5 separate regions of the Homo sapiens genome follow, and all the other regions are reported to be linked to region 3. Evidence: microRNA targets listed by miRTarBase, many of them from high-throughput screens and not tested one by one. Region 3 holds a microRNA gene; each other region holds the end of a gene's coding sequence.

Region 1 (4,152 bases), not on the chromosome of region 3:
TTTTTCTCTGATTATGATGGCTAATCCCATAATCAGACTGTCGGGTAAGTGGGGACATCCCCTCTTACAGATGAGGAATTTGAAACTCAAACAGGACAAGGAACTTTCCCAGGATAGTACTACTAATAAATGTTGAAGCTGCAGTTTGATGCTGTGAAGGTCTGATCTTTCAGTCTAGGTGCTTTCTACTCTGCAGCTTCCACTCTGGGTGCCCTCTAAAGGAGTGCCTTTGGGGTGATGACGTTCCACTCATCTTTGTGTCTTTTCTTTCCTAGGGATGCTGTGAAGAAGTGTTTTGCCGTGTGTCTTGCATAATTCATGGCCAGTTTTATGAAGCTTTGGAAGGCACTATGGACAGAAGCTGGTGGACAGTTTTGTAACTATCTTCGAAACCTCTGTCTTACAGACATGTGCCTTTTATCTTGCAGCAATGTGTTGCTTGTGATTCGAACATTTGAGGGTTACTTTTGGAAGCAACAATACATTCTCGAACCTGAATGTCAGTAGCACAGGATGAGAAGTGGGTTCTGTATCTTGTGGAGTGGAATCTTCCTCATGTACCTGTTTCCTCTCTGGATGTTGTCCCACTGAATTCCCATGAATACAAACCTATTCAGCAACAGCACATAAGCCTTGGGTGCAAGTGATTCCCAGGTGGCAAAAGGCAGCCCCATCAGAGATCACGGGAGCAACAGTAAGGGACAGAGTTTTGGGGTCCACTTGTCCCTCAGCATGGAAGCCATCACCGTGGTCCTGCATAGAGTGAGTCTGCTTCTACTCTGGCATCTGAGAACAAGTGACTCTGCTTTAGACAAGCCCCTGGAGAGCCTGGCCATGGAGTGAGGTAGAAAAGAAGCACTTTTTGGTGGTATATGCTGTTTCTGAATTTGAATCTAAGCATTCTTGGTGTTCTGATTCTGCGCCTGACTGTGGAATGTATTTTCTGACATTAGGTGCAGACTCTTTTTCTCTTGGGTTTTATTTCCCATCCCTCCCTCCCTCTCCCTGCATATCTTTCTTTATGACCTCCTGGCACTAGATGGGGAAAGAACAGAGCAGCAGCAGAAAATGCTGCTGTTTTTTTTTTGGACGAGAGCCCATAGGAGTTGAAAAATCCTGCTGCTCTCAGCTATATTTTTTTCTCCATTATTTATAAATGTTTGCTTTTAAACTGATTTTATTTTCCATTCTCCCCTGGAGTTGGGCCAGGGGAGAGTGGGGTGGGAAGACAGATCCCTGCTGTGCAGCCAGCAGGAAGTAGGCACGCCTGCCCAGTGACCTTTAAATAGTCCCAGTGTTTGCACTTAGCCTGTGCTGGGGACACTGGGGATAAACTGCAGGTGGTCTCATGTCAGCCTGATGCCTAACCTACAAAGTGCTTTTGTGTCCACGATCTTACCTGGTTCTTATGGAGAGCCTTGTGAGGAAGCAGGGATTGTTATACCACTGTGCAGTCAAGGGAATCAAGGCCCACACTGGTTTTTGGATCCACCCAAAGCCACAGCTTCAGCCTCCTTCATGACCCCAGAGTTTCCTGGCCTGTTTCTGGTTGTGCCTCCTGTAACTGCCTGTGACTGTTTCCCTCGTTTTCATCAGCCAAGCCATCTCCTCCCTGGCCCTCCCTGCCCATCTCTTTTGGAAGCTTCTTCCTGGATCTGCAGGATGTTCACTGTCCCTTGTGTTCCCTTTCAGCTCCTCCTTGTTGCCTGACTACGATTAGTGCCCTGTCTTGTCAGCCAGCATTCCTGGCCCTCCAGGACCTCCAGAGTCATCCTACAAATGACGTTTATCTGGATTGCCTTTCTGTTCTTTGCACAGGGCCAACTGGTCCACTAGGGCTCCTCCTCTGTCACTGCTAAACCAAAGGAAGTGGCCTGCTGGTTGTCCCCTTTCTTGTGGCTAATTGCTGAACCTTTCTTTGTCCTACTGTGGCTAAGAACTCTGACTGGTTTTTTTTTTTTTTTCTTTTTGAGATGGAGTCTCACTCCGTCGCCCAGGCTGGAGTGCAGTGGCGTGATCTCTGCTCACTGCAACCTCCACCTCCCGGGTTCAAGCAATTCTCCTGCCTCAGCCTTCCAAGTAGCTGGGATTACAGGTGCCCGCCACCACGCCCGTGCTAATTTTTGTGTTTTTAGTGGAGACAGGGTTTCACCATGTTGGCCAAGCTGGTCTGGAACTCCTGACCTCAGGTAATCCGCCCACCTTGACCTCCCAAAGTGCTGGGATTACAGGTGTGAGCCACTGTGCCCTGCTGATCTTTTCTTCTGAGGCTGGGGAGGTGTGAACAAGCCTGACGGGGCCAGAGAGAGGAGCTAGTCTTCCCAGGTTCTTTCTAGGCTATTGATGACATCCAGTCATCTGCTCAGGTCACTAACCTGTCCTCAGCCAGGAAAGGAAATTTTATGCTACCCCTCTGGCTTTTGTGGGATTCTTTCACATCCCAGGTGCCTCTTGGAGACAGATCTCAGAAGGGCTGTGGTGTCAGAAGGGACATGGAGGAGGTCAGGAGGGCTCATGGTTCCTTTTCTTTAGAACTGATACGAGGCTTGGCTAGTCACTGTGAGCTCCAGCAGCTCCAGCAGCCTGGAATAAGACACCTAGAAGGCTCATCCCTCCATGTCCATGTCCTTTTTTTTTTTTTAGATTGAACAACCATGCTTTGTTTAAAAAATAATCTCAGCAAACTAGGGATACAAGAGAATTTCCTCAACCTGTCGAAGGGCATCTTTAAAATATCTACTGCTAACATCCTATGTAATGATGAAAGGCTGAATGTTTTCCCCTAAGATTGAGAATAAGACAGAGATGTCAACTCTTACCACTTCTATTCAACGTTGTACTGAAAATTCTAGCCACTGCAATCATGTTTTAATTGGGAGTAGGGGGAAAGAGGGAGGGAAGGAGAAAAATGAAAGGCCTTTAGATTGAAAAGAAATGAGTAAAACTGTCTATTCACAGATATTATCATCTATGTAGAAAACCAAATCAAATCCATTACTAAGTTACTGAAACCAGCAAGTGAGTTTCGCAACACAGCAGGATATATAATTGATATACACAAATCAATTGTGTTTCTCCATGTTAGAAGTAAAGAATTAGGAATTGAAAATTTAAAAATAATACCATTTACAATAGCATTAAAATATAAAATTCTTGGGAATAAACCCGACAAACTATGTGGATTATCTGTACACTGATAACTAAAAAGCATTGCTAAGAAAAATTAAGACCTAAGTAAATATCTTGTTGATAGGTTGAGAGACTCAACATTGTTGATGTTAATTCTTTCCCATATTAATCTATAGATATAATGCAGTCCCCATCCAAAGCCAAGCAGGCTTTTTTTTTTTTTTTTTTGTAGAAATTAAAAACTGGTTTTAAGATTCACATGGCATGCAGATGATCTAGAAGATCCACAGTAACTCTCCTGCTGTGCAGCTGGTTCCTAACAGGTCATGGACCTGTCCATGGCCTGTAGGTTGGGAACCTCTGCTACAGAGGATCCAGATTTAAATTCAGAAGAAGCTTCATCTATTTCTGTAGTTTCATTTTCTTGCAATAACTGCTGCATCAAACTTGAACTTCGCAGGATTTTCTGAAGCTGCTCAATTTGGCCATCTTGCTTTTTAATTGTATTTCTTAACACTAGAATTTTCTATTTCAAGTTTTTGTACGTGGCCTTGCGTCTCCTTAGTACATTTTATAGTCGCTGTAAGTTGATTCCATTTTTCTTGAAATTGAATTCTCATCTGACCTAATTTCTTCCTTGAATCCTACATCTCACTTTCTCAATGGACGCAGTGACGCAATGAAGCATCCAGCAAAGCTTTTGTTGTTGATTGTTTAGGACGTCACCCTGTTTTTGTTGAAGTTGTCTCACAACTACTTCTCTTTCTGCTTTCTCTCTTTCATATTGACATTGTTTTTCTTTCAAATGATTAACTTTATTGATCATCCTCTTGTTCTTCTAGCAAAAGACGGTGCTTTATGCACTCAGCTTGAAGATTTTGTGCTGTAGCATCACATTTGGCTTGACTATCAATTACTGTTTTTTCTTGATTGTCAGCTTTGTTGTGAACATCATCCAGTTGCTGTTGAAGCAACATATTTTGTCTTCGTAGTTGACATAATCTTACTTGCTTTTCTGTGCAT
Region 2 (4,152 bases), not on the chromosome of region 3:
CACTTCAAACTAAATTGCCCTATTGCTTATTTATTTTAAGCTGAAAGGAACGTATTTTCTTCCACTGCATTTGCATGCTGAAAGAAACTGCAATGCAGCAGATTTTTTCTTCTTTTTAAATACCACTTTAGGGTTTTTCAATCTGAATGCAAATTTGGGAGGATGATTTTATGTTAATTATGAGTAGTGTTTTCACTGCTAGGCAAAACAATCAGAAATTTTATAGATTTCCTGTTTAATGGTGGTATATTTTTCTTTTAAAGCATCAACATGCTCAAGTTACCTGAATACCCAAGTAAAGAAATACTCAAGGACAGACTTCTTGTGGCACTACATTGTGGCAGCTATGGTTACACAATGGCATAATGAAGTCTGGAAAACTCCTCTGACTACTGATGCACAATTCAGAATGGCAGAAGTAATTTGGGAAAATGTCAACAAAAAAGCAGCCTAAATGCAACCCATAGGCAGGGCTGATGCTTCCAATTTATAAAGGATCATCAGGTTTTCTGTTTCTCTCTTTTCCCTTTTATGTTTTCTCTGTTTGTGATACAATTAGAAAATATAAAATCACAGTAGATTTTATTTTTTAAAATGCTAACTGAAAGTAATAGAGACTGTCCTTTTTCATAATTAATTTTATCCAAGATTGTATTAAGGCAAAATCTGATTCTACATTCCACCTCTGCTATGTAACTGTCTTGTTAAAAGGGTGTTTTCTCCTAATTTCTGATATATTATATGAGGTCATCCAGCTGGTGTGTTCTTTTGCATGTAAACTGCCATTTATATTTTAGAAAACTATTGTATAGAATGGATTTAGATTGTCTATAAAGCCACAAATACGTATTTTGCCACAGTGTATTCTATATTGCAATGATTTTTTTAGCATTTTAATATTTTAATATATATTGTAAAATTTAGACTGATGATACTAACAGTTGATGAAATGACATATAATTTATATATGAAAGCTTACGCTATATTGTATGAATTATTTGCATCTTTCAGTGGCCAGTTTTCCATATGTATATATTATGGTCTCAATGTTTTTCTTACGCCTCATTTTAATTTATAATGAAGGTAAAATTAAAATGTATTTTACCACGTTTCTTTTCATTACTTTTATCTGTGAGCTCTGACACATCTGAAAAAGTAATCTGATGTGCAAATTATAATTTAAATATGTTAATTTTTTTGCTTCTTAAATTTGCTTTTCATCATTAAAATGTCAAGTTCAAGTGATATGTGCCTAATATCACTTGGATGTTGGTGGGTTTTTGAATTTTTGGGTGGTTAATCAGTTTTATTTTGAAAAGACGTACTTGAATAGTTACAGCATATGTTTGAACAGGAAGTAGGAACATGCATACACGAAGAAATGCTAACGGAAGGATTTGTTATGTTTAGGATCTTCCCTTGGAAACTAAAAATAGAATATTAATGACATTACTGTTTGTAGAATGACATATGCAGATTTTCTCATAAGCAGTCATTGTGTTTGCCAGTAATGTTTGAGAGACATGTAAGTTGAAAGTTTTGCTAAATTATAAAGCTCCTTTAATTCGTTGGTTTTGATTCTCTTATTCTCTTGTCTTTTCTAAATGTTAACAAAATATATCTTAACAGATTACATGAAATTTAGGAATTATTTAAAAGTTACCATTAGCTCTAAAATTAAGATTCGGATGCTTTATTTATAGTAACTGAAGCTAATAATGTTTTATGTTTTGATTTTTTGAAATTTAATTGTAGAAGTCACTGCCTTCTGAGTTTTCAAATAGATAACCACCTTTAATATTACACTGCTTATAATACTAATGTTTACAGATATGTTTCTGTTTATAACCATATAATACATTGGCTTTGTCATATTAGTTTTTTTTGCAAGTAGTTATGTAAAAGAGATAGATAATAAAATATTAAATAACTGAGTGTGGTGGCTTATGTCTGTAATCTCAGCATTTCGAGAGGCTGAGGTGGGAGAATTGCTTAAGACCAGAAGTCAAGACCAGCCTAGACAGCATAGGCAGACCCCATCTCTACAAAAAAATAAAAATAAGCTGGGCATGGTGGCATGTGCCTGTGGTTGGAAGGCTAGGTGCGAGATCGCTTGAGCCCAGGAGATCGAGGCTGTAATGAGACATGATCATGTGACTGCACTCCAGCCTGTGAGACTTTGTCTCAAAAAAAATATATATATGTATATATTCATATACATATATATGTGTGTACATATTCATATACATATATGTGTGTACATATTCATATACATATATATGTGTGTATATATTCATATACATATATATGTGTGTATATATTCATATACATATATATGTGTGTATGTATTCATATACATACGTGTGTATGTATTCATATACATACGTGTGTATGTATTCATATACATACGTGTGTGTGTATTCATATACATACGTGTGTGTGTATTCATATACATACGTGTGTGTGTATTCATATACATACGTGTGTGTGTATTCATATACATACGTGTGTGTGTATTCATATACATATGTGTGTGTGTATTCATATACATATGTGTGTGTATTCATATATGTGTGTATTCATATACATGTGTGTGTATTCATATACATGTGTGTGTATATATATTTGTATACATATACATGTGTATATATATTCGTATACATATACATGTGTATATATATTCGTATACATACATGTGTATATATATTCGTATACATACATGTGTATATATATTCGTATACATATATGTGTATATATATTCGTATACATACATGTATATATATTCGTATACATATATGTGTATATATATTCGTATACATGTATGTGTATATATTCGTATACATATATATGTGTATATATATTCGTATACATGTATGTGTATCTATATACCCATATATATACCCATATACATATATATACACACACCCATATGCATATATATAAAATAGTATTTTAACCATCAATTTGAATATTTTAAAATATAGATCTGCTTATTTTAGGATTTATTTTTTCACATTTTTAAAATAAGAGTGTAGTTAATATAAAGAGATTTTACAAAGATTAAAAATACTATTTAGAGGTAGCATCTTTCTAATTTACTCCATTCCCACAATTTCTTCTGTATGTAGATGGATATGTTGAATGCAAGGTAGTATAGAAAAATGGTTAGATTTTCTCCTTTGGGAAAAAGATTATATTAATAGGAAAATGACTCAATTCTTAAAACATGGTAGTTTCATATAAGGAAGAAAACAGAAATAAAACACTCGAATATAAAGCAAGGGAATGTATTATAGGAAACTGATTAATGAAACTATCTGGGCAGAGTAGATTAAGTTATCCAAATAGTTTGAGGAGATAGTTATTAACCACGTAGTTAATAAAATCCATTTTCAAGTTAACCCCAAAACAAAATGTAATAGAAGGAAATCCCAGCTTGGAAATAATCTGCTGAACACAGCCTCTACTATTCAGGCAGTCTTTTGGGTATCGGGAAACGCAAGCTTTAAAGGATAGCTCACAAGTTGGAGGCCCAGGAGATGATTCCTACTCACATGTTTTGTTTGTCATACTGTTTCTAAAATTTTGAATGAGTTACCAAGATTTTACAAAACCTGAAGATTTCATGCAGAAGTCAGGAGTTTTGGGTCCTTTTGAGCAGTGAGACAATCTGACAATATTGGGTGCATGGGTGCATATTCCTGCAAAGCATTATGGAATTGAGTAAATGCTGCTGCTTTGAATAACTAAATGCCCTCTCCAGTTTGCCATTTCCTCCTCTCTCTCTCTCCCCCCTCCCTCCCCCCTCTTTTTTCTACCCTCTTTTTTTTTTTTTTTTTTTTTTTAACTCTGTTGCCCAGGCTGGAGTGCAGTGGCATGATCTCGGCTCACTGCAACCTCCACCTCCTGGGTTCAAGTGATTCTGCTCCTCAGCCTCCCGAGTAGCTGGGATTTTAGGCATGCACCATCACACCCGACCAATTTTTGTATTTTTAATAAAGACGGGGTTTCATCTTGTTGGTCAGGCTGGTCTTGAACCCCTAGGGACCTCAAGTGATCCACCCGCCTCAGCCTCCCCAAAGTGCTGGGATTATGTCACCACACCAGACCAGTTCGCCATTTTCTTAGCCCAGCATGCTTCACTACTCTATG
Region 3 (4,152 bases):
ACACAATAAAACCCATATATGACAAACTTAGAAATAACACCATACGGAACAGAGAAAAGTTGAAAGCTTTTCCTCTAAAATCTAGCACAAGACAAGGATGTCCACTTTCATCACTTCTATTCAACATAGTACTAGAAGTCCTAGCCAGAGCAATTAGACAGAAGAAAGAAATAAAAGGGATTGAAAGAGAAATTAAAAAGGTAAATTATCTGTTTGCAGATGACATGATGTTACATATAAAAAACTCTATGGATTACACCAGAAAACAGTTAGAATTAATATATAAATCCAGTAAAGTTGCAAGATACAAAATCAACACACAAAAAATCAGTTACATTTCTATATACTAATAGTAAACTATCTGAAAAAAAGAATTCAAGAAGACAATTTCATTTACAACAGCTATTTAGAAAAAAAACCCTAGAAAAAACTTTAACCAAGGAGGTGAAGGATCTTACACTGAAAACTATAAATCATTGATTAAATAAATTGAAGAAAACATAAATATATAGATTTTTCATTTTCATTAAATAGAAGAATGAACATTGTTAAAGTGTACCCAAAGTGATCTACAGATTTAATGCAATGCTCATGAAAACACCAATGGCATTCTTCACATAAATTGAAAAAAAAATCCTAAAATTAGTATCAAATCACAAAAGAACCCCAAATAGCCAAAGCTGAAATCATAACAGTACCTGACTTTAAAATTATCTATAAAGATATAGTAACCAAAACATTATGGTAGTAGCATAAAAGCAGACACATAGACCAATGGAACAGAACAGAGAGCCCAAAAATAAATATGTGCATTTATAGCCAACTGATTTTCAATAAATCTGGCAAGAACACCCAATGAGAAAAAGATAGCCTCCTCAAAAAATGGTGCTGTGAAAACTGGATATTCACATGCAGAAGAATAAACAAGACTCTCTATGTCTCACCATATTCAAAAATCAACTGAAAATGGATTACATATTTAAATGTAAGATCCCAAACTGTGAAAGCTACTAGGGAAAAGCTCCACGACATTCGTGTGGGCTGGTCAAGGATTTTCTATTTAAAACCTCAAAAGTAAAAATTAGACAAATTATACTATTTAAAGTGAAAAAAGCTTCTGTACAGCAGTGAAGAGGCAATCTACAAAATGGAAAAAAATTTGCAAAATATACATCTGATAAGGAGTTAATATTCAAAATATATAAGGAACTTAATAGCAAGAAAACAAATAACCCTTTTAAAAATGGCTAAAAGACTTGAATAGATACGTTTCAAATGAAAACATACAAATGGCCAACCTGTATATTAAAATATGCTCAACATCATAATCATTAGGATATGGAAAATCAAAACCAAAATGAAATATTACCTAATTTCTACTAGGATTACTATTATCAAAAAGGCAGAAGATAAATATTGTAAATAATGTGCCAAAATTGTCACTGTTAGTGGGAATATAAATTAGTGCTATTAGGGAAAACAGCATGGAGTTTCCTCAGAAAATGTAAAAATAGAACTACCATACAATCCACTCCCTCAGTACTGCATATAAATCCAAGGAAAATTACATCAGTATATAGAAGGGATGCCTGCATTTCCACATTCATTGCAGCATTATTCACAATAACCAAGACATGAAATCAACCTAAGTGTCTATTAGCAGAAGAATCACTAAAGAAAATGTGGTATATTTACATAATGGAAGAGTATTCGGTCACAAACAGGAACAAAATCCCACCATTTGTGACAACATCAATGAACCTGGATGATTTCATGCTAAGAGAAATAAGCCAGGACAGAAATACCACATGATCTCACATATGTGGAATCTAAAAAGTGGAACTCGTAGAAGCAGAGAGTTGAGTAGTGGTTACCAGAGGCTGAGCTAAGTAGGAGGAGAGGGATTGGGTGATCCTGGTCAAAGGATATACAATTAAAGTTAGATATAATAATTGTTTAAATGTTTAGATATGCAAACATATAGAGAAAAAATGTAGACAAGTGATTGTATAAGGCCAGGAAGGTTGGGGAGAGGAGAACTGGCGGTGGAGGAGTTAGAGAAATAAGGAATAACCATTATTGGTTATGGAGTTTCTTTTGGGGCTAATGAAAATGTTCTAAACTTGATTGTGATGATGGAGGCACAACTCTGAGAACACTTCATTGTATTGCACATCCTAAGTGGGTGAAGAGTATATGCATTATATCTCAATAAAGCTCTAAAATAAAAATTATGGGTTTATTCTGCTACTTCTAATATCCATCTAAACTTATGCCATTACATACATGTATTCTCCATTTCCCACAGTGAGAATTCTCAAATATATTAATATACTTACCCTTTGTTTAATATATTTTCAAAAGTGTTATACCAACTGCACTATGAACAACAAACCTATGAAGTTGGGTTCAAAATATCTTTCTTTTTAAGAGGCAGGCCCCTATTTGTTTTGATAATTATTACTCAATATTGTATATATTAAATTATCACACTGAGTAATCAGAATATATATGATCTTTATTGGTTAATTAAATATATTTAAAGAAAATATCAAAATTTATTTCTTTAATTTTGTGTGGATACATATTAGGTATATATATTTATGGGGTATATGAGATGTTTTGATATAGGCATGCTATGTGAAATAAGCACATCATAGAGAATGAGAGAATGGGGTATCCATTCCCTCAAGCATTTATACTTTGAATTACAAATAATCCAATTACATTATTTAAGTTATTTAAAAATATACAATTAAGTTATTATTGATGATAGTCACCTTATTGTGCTATCAAATGGTAGATCTTATTCATTCTTTTTTATTTCTTATTTTTTGCACCCATTAACCATCTTCATCTCCCCTCCCAATCTTCCACTACCCTTCCCAGCCTCTGGTAACCATCCTCTCTCTGTGTCCATTAGTTCAATTGTTCTGATTTTTAGATCCCACAAATAAATGAGAACATGCATTGTTTGTCTTTCTGTGCCTATTTCACTTACATTATGATCTCCAGTTCCATCCATGTTGTTGCAAATGACTGGATCTCATTCTTTTTTTATGGCTGAGTGGTACTCCATTGTGGATGTTTACATTTTCTTTATCCATTCACCTGTTTATGGACACCTAGAGTGCTTCCAAATCTTACCTACTGTAAACAGTGGTGCAACAAACATATGAGAGCAAACAAATTTCCTTTTCAAAATATCTAAGTTTCTTTTTGTCTTTGGATTCAAATACATGTCAAAGTTACTTGTATTATTTTTTTCTTCAATGTATTTATGTTATCAATTTAATATATTTTGTTTTTGCATTGTTTCGAATTTTCTTTTTCATTTCTTAACATTTATATCTACTGAAATATATAAATTGGTAACATAATTTCAAAATTAAAAACCCTTTCCCATTATTTCTTACATTTATCAATCATTCTCTTTAGGTAACCAGATTTATAACATTTGCTTTATCATTTCTTTGCTTATTTTTGCCAAGGTATTTACTATAAATGGCAACACACTATTTACACTACTTTACACTTTCCTCTTTGTTACTTAACAATATATATCCTTGCTATCATTCCTTAGCAGTTGATAGAGACATTTTTCCTTTTTTTAAATCTCTGCATTGTAAAAAATTGTGTGGCTATACCTTAGTTTATTTAGCTATTTTTATGTGTGAGCATTAAGATTACTTCCAATAGTGTGACCTTATAGTTGATGCTACAATTAATAACTGTGATTATTTTCATATTGTTTTAGGTGTGTAATTTCAAGGAATTTCTTAGTAGTGGGCTTACTGCATCAGTTTCTCTGCTTAGTGCCATATTTCCAGCCATAGAAATTCTACCATTCCTCCTTCCCTTTGGCCATATATGAGTGGCTATTTGGCATGGTTTTACCAGCACAGTATTCTATCAAAATTTTGAATTTTTGTAATTTTAATAGGTGAGAAAAATGTTTCAATCTAGGTTTAACTTGTAAATCTCTTATTGCATGAAACTGGACGTCTTGCACATGTGTAAGGCAATGTTTATATTACTTTAATATTATCTGTTCATACCTTTTGCATATTTTTTCTCCTGGATTTTCATTCCGTTTTTCCAGTAATTTTTAAAAGCTACTTAGAAATGCAATCCTCAAAAAATTAAAAATAA
Region 4 (4,139 bases), not on the chromosome of region 3:
CCCTGGGCTTGGGGATAGATCTGAACCCTTATCTTGCTCCATCCTGTCTTCCTCAAAATATGTCGTGTGGCAGGCTGTAACATCAGCACTGTCATCAAACAAGCCTGGGGCCTCACAAGGGCACTGGAAAGATGATTTTTTTTCTTTTTTTTGAGACAGAGTCTTGCTCTGTCACCCAGGCTGGAGTGCAGTGGCACGATCTCGGCTCACTGCAACCTCTGCCTACTGGGTTCAACCAATTCTCCTGCCTGCCTCAACCTCCCAAGTAGCTGGGACTACAGGCATGCGCCACCACGCCCGGCTAATTATTATATTTTTTAGTAGAGACAGGGTTTCACTATGTTGGCCAGGCTGGTTTTGAACTCCTGACCTCAAGTGATTCACCCGCCTCGGCCTCCCAAAGTGCTGGGATTACAGGCATGAGCCACTGTGCCCGGCCAGAAAGATGATTGTAAAAATGGACTGGGTGGTCTGAAGGAAGGGCAAGGAAGACCCATTTGCTGGTTTTGTTAAAGAAAAAAAAAAAAGTACATATAATGCCTGGATTTGCCTTTGGGAGGGAAATCCTGCCCAGTCCCTCTTTCTTCCAGGCATGGAATCCTAGGCTGTGGGATAATGAGCACAATGCCAAGTGTCAGCTGGACAGAGAGGAAGGGCATGAGGGATGGGCTTTGGTGCACATGACGCTGGGGACAGTAGAGGACAGAGGAGGAACTACACATGTGGGGCCCCTACCCTTGAGCTGCACCCAGATTTTCATCAAGGGCCCATCAGGATCAGGTGTCTGTGGGAGCCTCTTGCCTAGGGTGAGCTTAGACTGCATCACACCTTCAACAGTTCCCCTGCAACTCTCAAATAATGGATAGGTTAAAGCCAGAGGAGGGTTAATTTGCCCACAAGTCTTTCTGTGCTTTCCTTGTGCCATCACTCAGCTAGGCAGAATACATTCTCTCGCTCTTAGCCATCCCAAGGGAGGCAGAGATGATCAGACATAACTTTTGAACCCCCATCTCACTGGAGAAGGGAAATCCTACATGGGAAATGCTCATCCTGCCCAACTTGGGGCTGGCACCTTCATTTCCAAATGATGCTGGGGAGTCAGGTCAGTTTCTGTACTGGAAGCATAAAGCACATGGCTTGAAATCAGCTCCCAGGAAAGGATCATTCTTTGTGCCTGAGAGCAAAGCCAAGGGAAACGTGGCAAAAAGAGGTCACTTTGTTAATATTCCCCTTCTCTCCACCAATCCCCTTATTCAGAATGCAGCAAGGCAGTTTTCTAGTCATGCAGTCCACGCATGAGGAATAAATACACCTCATGTCTTCCACCTGCTGCCAGTGCGGTGATGAGATGCAGAGCTGAGGGGCTGAGGAAGAGGCTTCTGTGTCAAGGTAGATTCAGCTGGTGGTCTAGTATTGCCCAAACGACTTCCGTAGGGATAGGAAAGGCCCCTGCTTGTTAACAAAGAAGAGGGAAAGGGCAGAGAACCTGGATCCATCTGAGATCTGTGGGCTTTTTACTTTTTCAGCCATTTGAGGGTTGACTGGCTCTAAGGAAAAGCTGTTTGCTGGCAGACACAGGTGGCTGGTGACAAAGGGAACAGAGCAGGGGAATGGATAGCTCAAAACGAGCCTCGCCACTCCTGAACAGAACAGCAATCCCAGCTGTGTCCTTTCGAGGGTGAGTGAAAGCACATGCTGTCCTTTACATGCTTGAGGCGGACTTGCCTGTCTCTTCAGGCCGGATGCTCTTCAGGGCCCTGTGGGGCTTAAACACATGTACTGAGCTAGCTCCAATCTTAATCTGCACAACATCGCAACCCCTGAGTTCCTATTAGTTCTGCAAAACAAAGCAAAACAAATCCCCACCAAAATTTCAGATTTGTAGCATCTGCTAAAACCAAAAGGCACAATCAACTTCTTGTCCTCTCTGGGTTACTGGGCAGGCGATATAGAAGGAACCAGTATCTGTGGCCAGAGTCCTCTATCGGGTGCAGCTGGGCTCCAGGCCTCTCTAGCTGCCAAGCCCTCCCAGGAACCTGCCTCGCCCTTCACTTTGGGAAGGGACCTTGGCCCTTGGGGAAATGCATTGTTGCCAGACTGTAGCCTTCTGGAGGGGACTGAGCCAAGGCCCCATTGGCTCTCCTCTCTAAGCTTCTTATTAATGGGCTCTGAGGCCAATGCCTTCCTCCAGGGGTTGGGGAGGTGGGTGGAAGAGCTAAGTTGCTGGCTGAGGTCACTGCTGTAACTTGGCTCTTCGTATCTGCTTTGTGTACAGGCAAAACTGGCTTACAGAAGAAAAAGGCAGGAACACCTGCATTGGGCCCTGGCCCTTGGAGGTGCTCTGGGGGCTCGTGCCAGTGTCATGAGGTATATGTGGCCGCGGCCCCTTTTGGGCATGTGGCTTGGGTTTGCCGAGGGTCAGGAGGGCAAGGTCCTACCTTGGTCCCAGTGTGGATCGCTCTGAGAGACCACAGCTCCCTCCTCTGGAGTCCCCTCTCCGAGCTCTCCAAGGGAAAAGACAAAGGAAGCCGAACTGCCAAGTTGAAGATTTTGCCTCAGGCAACTAAATTTATTAGCAAGAAAAAATTTTTGTCAGCCCAGTGCTGACCAACAAAGTACGTTAATAAAGGATAACAAATCTGTCACTTAATTCATAAAACATACCTCAAGCAGTTACAACTAAAAATAAAGTTGGATTTTTGTTTAATTTAAAAGCCTCAAAAATAACAAGCAATGTGTTTTTAAACATGTAGTAGACACAATTGTCTATTATACAATATACACTGTACACAAGTAGAGCTTGGGCCGGGCAGGGGTGAGGTGAAGGGAGAGGGAGGAGGTGCAGGATGTGCAGGTGCTGTTATCTGAATCCAGATTTGAGTTTAAATGCTGTGTCATTTAGAAAAGGGAATTGCTAGAGTGAGAAAAAATTCATATGCTCATCATTGCCCCCAACCCTCAACTGAAAGCAGGCATCAGGGAGGTGAATAACAAGGAAAGGAAGAAGGGAGCAATTAAATAAAACTTCTTTAAAGCACACACAGTACACAGTGTTCATCATCTGAAGTAGAGTATAAGGCAACGTTCTCCATAGAAAAAGAGGGGGATCAGGAGTCGGTGGGTGTCTTTACTTTTTAAATAGAGCTGGAATGTGCTGGAGGAGAGGTTGTGGCGGGGCTGGGCACATGGAGTGGAGGTGGCCCCGAGTTTCTCCAGAGGTGGGTGCCAAGCCCCAGGGCGTCCACAGTGGCCGGCAGGGCCAGGGAGGTGCAGGAGAGGGGGCATGGCATGACGCGACTCCGGCAGTGTTGGGAGCGGGGATCGGGGTGGGGGGTAGGGGCTCACTTTGCTCCTCGACGGAGTGAAATGCATGTTTTTCCTTTGGAAATAAGGGTTCCCACGCGTCCTGGTTTAGAACGTCTCATTGGGCACGGCCAGTGTCCACAGTCTGGGCAGGCCGGGAGCTCGTGGTGAGGGGAAGGGCCAAGGCAGAGCCAAGGGGCTTCAGAAGGAGGACAATACAGGGAACAGAGCCCCTTCCTGTGGGGACAGTTGCAGAACAGGAGTGGGGCTGAGGGCAGGCCCAAGGCAGCCACAGGGCTCCTTTCCACCAGGGGCCCAGGGAGGACACAGGTGGGGGACTGCATCTTCAGGGCCTCCCGCCGCAGTTGGCCTTACAAGTTCTTCGTGACCAGGTGGGTCTTGTAATGCTTGGTGAGGTGGTCACTCCTCATGAAGCGCTTCTGACACTGGGCGCACTCGAAGCGTTTGTCCCCTGGGAAGAGGAGATGCCCATCACCCACAGACCCTGTGCACAGACCCTGTCTCTGCCCAAAAAGGTGGGGTGCGTGTGAGGTGCACCCAATCAAGCTGACATGGCCTTGTCACCACATTCTGCCCACCTCCTGCTCTCACATTTGCTCACTGGTGCTTACTCATCTATATCTTTTTTTTTTTTTTTTTTTTTGAGATGGAGTCTCACTCTGCTGGCCAGGCTGGAGTGCAGTGGCACAATCTCCACTCACTGCAACCTCCACCTCCCAGGTCAAGCAATTCTCCTGCCTCAGCCTCTCAAATAGCTGGGACTACAGATGCCCGCCACTGCACCCAGCTAATTCCTGTATTTTTGTAGAGACAGG
Region 5 (4,000 bases), not on the chromosome of region 3:
AGGAAGACGATGAAAGTTCAGAGCAGGGAGAGAAAGGCACCCATCATGGCAGCCGGGACCAGGAAGATGAGGAGGATGAGGAGGAAGGTCATGGCCTCAGCCTGAACCAGGAGGAGGAAGAAGAGGAAGACAAGGAGGAGGAGGAGGAGGAAGAAGACGAGGAGAGGAGGGAAGAGAGGGCTGAGGTTGGGGCCCCACTGAGCCCAGACCACAGCGAGGAGGAAGAGGAGGAGGAGGAGGGGCTGGAGGAAGATGAGCCCCGCTTCACCATCATCCCCAACCCACTGGACAGGAGAGAGGAGGCTGGAGGTGCCTCCAGCGAGGAGGAAAGCGGTGAGGACACAGGTAAGTGGCCTGGGCTGGTGTGGGTGGGAAGGAACCGAGTCAGCCTGGGTCACTGCTGCCCTCCTGTCCCCGCAGGTCCACAGGATGCTCAGGAGTATGGGAACTACCAGCCAGGGTCCCTGTGTGGCTACTGCTCCTTCTGCAATGTATGTCCCCAGCCCAGATCCACCCACCAAGGTGTCCCCAGAATCTGTCCCAGGGGCCCTGGGGTGGTGCTGTGGGAGGGCTCAGAGCAAGGGCAGGCCAGGGTCAGTTCTGAAAGAAAAGAGATCCTTCTGCAGGCATGTGAGGTGAGGACAGACTGAAGGCTGGGAGGCTGGGGCAGTGGTCCAGGAAGGAGAGGACAAGACCCAAGCTGCATCTTGGGGTGTGGGGACAGAGACAGGGGTCTGTGGCAAAGAGAGTCGGGGGAAGGAGGGATGGCACAGGGGCTGATAGGCTAGGGGGAGAATAGGCAGAGAGCGGGTGGAGAGAGCACCTGAGCCCACCCTGACAGGGAGACATGGGGTCGCCCTGAGATAGAAAACCAGGGGCAGGGCCGGGTGTGGTGGCTCACGCCTGTAATCTCAGCACTTTAAGAGGCCAGGGTGGGCGGAACACGAGGTCAGGAGATCGAGACCATCCTGGCTAACACGGTGAAACCCCATTTCTACTAAAAAATACAAAAAAATTAGCCGGGCGTGGTGGCACGCACCTGTAATCCCAGCTACTCAGGAGGCCGAGGCAGGAGAATCGCTTGAACCCGGGAGACGGAGGTTGCAGTGAGCTGAGGTTGCGCCACTGCACTCCAGCCTGGGCGACAGAGAGAGACTCCGCCTCAAGAAAAAAAAGGAAAAAAAGGGAAAGGAAGGAAACCAGGGGCAGGGGAGGGGAGGGGAGGCTGGTTTGGGGGGCAGATACAGAGCTCAGTGTTAGAGATAAAGAGGGTAGAGTCTGGGGAAGCGTCCAGGGTGCAGGGGTGGGCCAGGGGCGGGTACCTCCCAAGTGGCGTTAGAGTTTCCATCTAACCAGGCTCCCCCGGTCCCCAGCGATGCACTGAATGTGAGAGCTGTCACTGTGATGAGGAGAACATGGGTGAGCACTGCGACCAGTGCCAGGTGAGACCTCACCTCACACTCAAGGCTCCACTGGGCCTCAGGATGCACCGGGACCCTCTGAGGACCCCCAGCCCTAAATCCTGGCCTCTGACCCAACCCCTTACCCCTGATGCAACCTTGACTCCACAAGCGATCCTGACTCCAACCTTAACCTAGACCTAGCCTCTGGTCCGGGTCTGGTCCCGGCCCCATCCTAACTCCGCCCCCGGCCACGCCCCACGCTCACTCTCTCTCCCCGTCCCCGCCTCCAGCACTGTCAGTTCTGCTATCTCTGCCCGCTGGTCTGCGAAACGGTCTGCGCTCCAGGTGAGCATGGGCGGGGCCCTGGAAAAACCTGAGGAAGGTGCCGGGCCCAGCGTGGTGAATCCTGGTGGGGGCGGAGCCTGGCCCGGTAGGCTGGTGGGGCGGGGCTAAGAGGGGAGGCGTGGCCAAGGCTCTGAGCACGTGGGCCGGGGCCTGGCTCGAGGAACACCAGGTGGAGTTGCTGGAGCCAAGGGACAGAAATGAGTGGAGGGTTGAGATGCGGGCTTAGAGCCTAATGGGCGAGGCCAACTCAAGTAGGAATCGAAGGGGCGGGGCTACTGGAGAACGGAATCACCCAGAACGAAAAAGGGGTCCGGTAGAAGGGATTCAGTTGGAAGAAGGAATTAGGGAAAAGGAGGTGGAGCTAGCACTAATCTCGCACGCTATACTGAGTGGCTGCCTAATTTTGCTCGTGCAGTACCCCTCAAGCCTCTTTTCTCTGCTGTCCCACAGGAAGCTACGTTGACTATTTCTCCTCGTCCCTTTATCAGTAAGTGTGTAAAAGGGGAGCGTGTAAAAGCCCCGTTTAGAGAAGTGCTTGTCTCGCTATGAGTTATCAGATGACTCTGGGACTCCATTTCCCCGTCCATGAAATGGGCAGGTTAATGATCTCTAAGCGTCCTGGGGTGGGCTTTGAACACCAGCTGTCTAACTTCTGGCGTTCTCGTCTCCAGGGCCCTGGCAGACATGCTGGAAACGCCGGAACCCTGACCCAGTCGCTCGACTGCGACGCAGGTGTACCTCCCCCTGCCTTCCAACCCCTTTCCACGAGCTATATTTATTTCTCCGAATAAACGTGCTCCCCGAAACCTCATTGTCAGACGTGGGGTCTGGGAATCTCAGGGCATCGGGGAATGCGGGTAGGGTCTAGAGACCTGGACCTAGACTTGAGGGATGAGGGGCCTGGACTCCTGGCTCGAGGTGGTTGGTTGAACAGCCCCCCCCCCCCCCGCAAAAAAAAAATCAGTCAACAAGGAAGCTTTTTGAAACAGTTCTCTTTACCCGTGATCACTGAGTGACGCCTGGGGCGGGGAGGCCGACCGAGAGTCGGGGGCGAGGGCTCCCCCACCGTCCCCCTGCCCCCACGCCACGTCGCCCAGCGGCATCGTGGAAAGAGGATTCTCCCATGCAAACCCCGGAGCCAGAGGAGAAGGGGAAGCGCCATTCTGCGCCCCCTACCCCCGGGGCACGGACACGGCCACAGCACGGGGGGCGGTGAGGCCCCGGGGACACGAGACACGGGGGAGGGAGAGGGGAACCCGCCCGCAGATGACCCGGGGGACCGGCGACCGGACGCGGCGGGGCGGAGCTGAGTGGCACAGGGGGCGAGGCTTGTAGCAGCGAGTCCCCCCTCCCCTCCTTTCGGACGAAGAAGGAAGACTTGGGCCCCGCGACTGGGCAGGAAAAAGGGGAGGGAGCAGCCTCTCCCCGCATGCGGCCCGGGAGGGAAGCCCCGCCCCCTTCCCGCGGGTAAAGGACACCCGTCTCCCAACAGAAACTGATCAATAAATTACAAAGTAGAGAAAAGGAAAGCGGACGTTTGGGGCGGGATTTCTTCCTCCCCGCTTCTTCCCCCTCTCAGTCCAGTTCATGTGGTTTGGTCCAGGCCCCGGCCCTGTGCGAGGCGGGCGCGCGCACTCCCGCTGGTCTGTACAGATGGTCCAGTCCTCGGCGCGAGCTCCCCCGCCCGCTCTCCCCGGCGAGGCCACAGTCCGGGCAGGAGAGGGAACAGCCCAGCCTCGGGAAGATTCTTCCGTCCGAGTGAGGTCACCTGCATGACGCCGGGCAGCGCGTGGAGCAGTGAAGATCCACCGTGCCGCCCCGCACCCCCAAGGTCGCCCAGCACGGTCCTCACCTGGAGGCCTGCACTAGCAGGAATAGGTCCGGACCGAAACGCCGTCTGCCCGGGAACTCCCAGAAGTCTGGCCTGGAGGGAGAGCGAGCAGCGGTTCAGCCTGGAGCACCCTCCTCCCTGTTCCTCTCCAGGATTCCTCCCTTTGGACTTCCCTTCCCGATGTCACAACGATCGCCGGGCTCCACATGGGTTTCCCTCCCTTCCCCGCAGCCAAGGACTCAAACTCGCATTGGGCGAGTTCACTCCCGCCCTGGGAAGGGGGAGTGGGATTTATCCATTTCATCCTGACGGGGGAGTCCGGAACGTTGGAGCAGTCCATTCCTCAGGGGTGGGCGAGAAAGGACTAGGCCATTCCAGAACCCGGACTACTGAGGTGGTCCATGCCCCACCCTAGGGAAGC

What was found. Region 3 holds the annotated microRNA hsa-miR-6130 (UGAGGGAGUGGAUUGUAUG, at 1,521-1,539, opposite strand). A microRNA usually pairs through its seed, bases 2 to 8, with sites in the 3' UTR of a target mRNA and lowers its output. Matches are read on the target gene's strand: a 7mer-m8 pairs with bases 2 to 8, a 7mer-A1 pairs with bases 2 to 7 and ends in A, and an 8mer does both.
Region 1: miRTarBase lists SFT2D2 as a target of hsa-miR-6130. Seed matches in the 3' UTR shown: 7mer-A1 at 724-730, 7mer-m8 at 992-998 and 7mer-m8 at 996-1,002.
Region 2: miRTarBase lists HACE1 as a target of hsa-miR-6130. The part of its 3' UTR that is shown has no 7-base or 8-base seed match.
Region 4: miRTarBase lists SP2 as a target of hsa-miR-6130. Seed matches in the 3' UTR shown: 7mer-m8 at 2,830-2,836.
Region 5: the mRNA of PPFIA3 is a reported target of hsa-miR-6130. Seed matches in the 3' UTR shown: 7mer-m8 at 3,157-3,163 and 7mer-m8 at 2,990-2,996.

What each region holds. Positions count from the first base shown.
Region 1 is chr1:168,242,226-168,246,377 of GRCh38, forward strand. SFT2D2 (SFT2 domain containing 2) reads left to right here. Exons shown (of 8, transcript NM_199344.3): 8 at 276-4,152. The coding sequence ends at 315. It also overlaps the pseudogene ANKRD36BP1. Among named protein-coding and RNA genes, the nearest start is that of SFT2D2, 18 kb to the left of the region's middle.
Region 2 is chr6:104,725,876-104,730,027 of GRCh38, reverse strand. It overlaps HACE1 (HECT domain and ankyrin repeat containing E3 ubiquitin protein ligase 1), which reads left to right. Exons shown (of 24, transcript NM_020771.4): 24 at 264-1,934. The coding sequence ends at 366. Among named protein-coding and RNA genes, the nearest start is that of HACE1, 130 kb to the left of the region's middle.
Region 3 is chr21:23,076,741-23,080,892 of GRCh38, reverse strand. MIR6130 (microRNA 6130) reads right to left here and starts at 1,609; the gene lies at 1,501-1,609.
Region 4 is chr17:47,927,360-47,931,498 of GRCh38, reverse strand. SP2 (Sp2 transcription factor) reads right to left here. Exons shown (of 7, transcript NM_003110.6): 7 at 2,542-3,775. The coding sequence ends at 3,675. All of the region lies in intron 1 of SP2-AS1 (SP2 antisense RNA 1), which reads left to right. Among named protein-coding and RNA genes, the nearest start is that of SP2-AS1, 12 kb to the left of the region's middle. RefSeq lists an enhancer at 3,629-4,130.
Region 5 is chr19:49,149,752-49,153,751 of GRCh38, reverse strand. PPFIA3 (PPFI scaffold protein A3) reads right to left here. Exons shown (of 30, transcript NM_003660.4): 29 at 3,601-3,672; 30 at 2,726-3,516. The coding sequence ends at 3,614. It overlaps HRC (histidine rich calcium binding protein), which reads left to right. Exons shown (of 6, transcript NM_002152.3): 1 at 1-345; 2 at 421-491; 3 at 1,374-1,442; 4 at 1,694-1,748; 5 at 2,199-2,235; 6 at 2,420-2,554. The coding sequence ends at 2,456. Among named protein-coding and RNA genes, the nearest start is that of HRC, 3.6 kb to the left of the region's middle. RefSeq lists an enhancer at 1,811-2,420.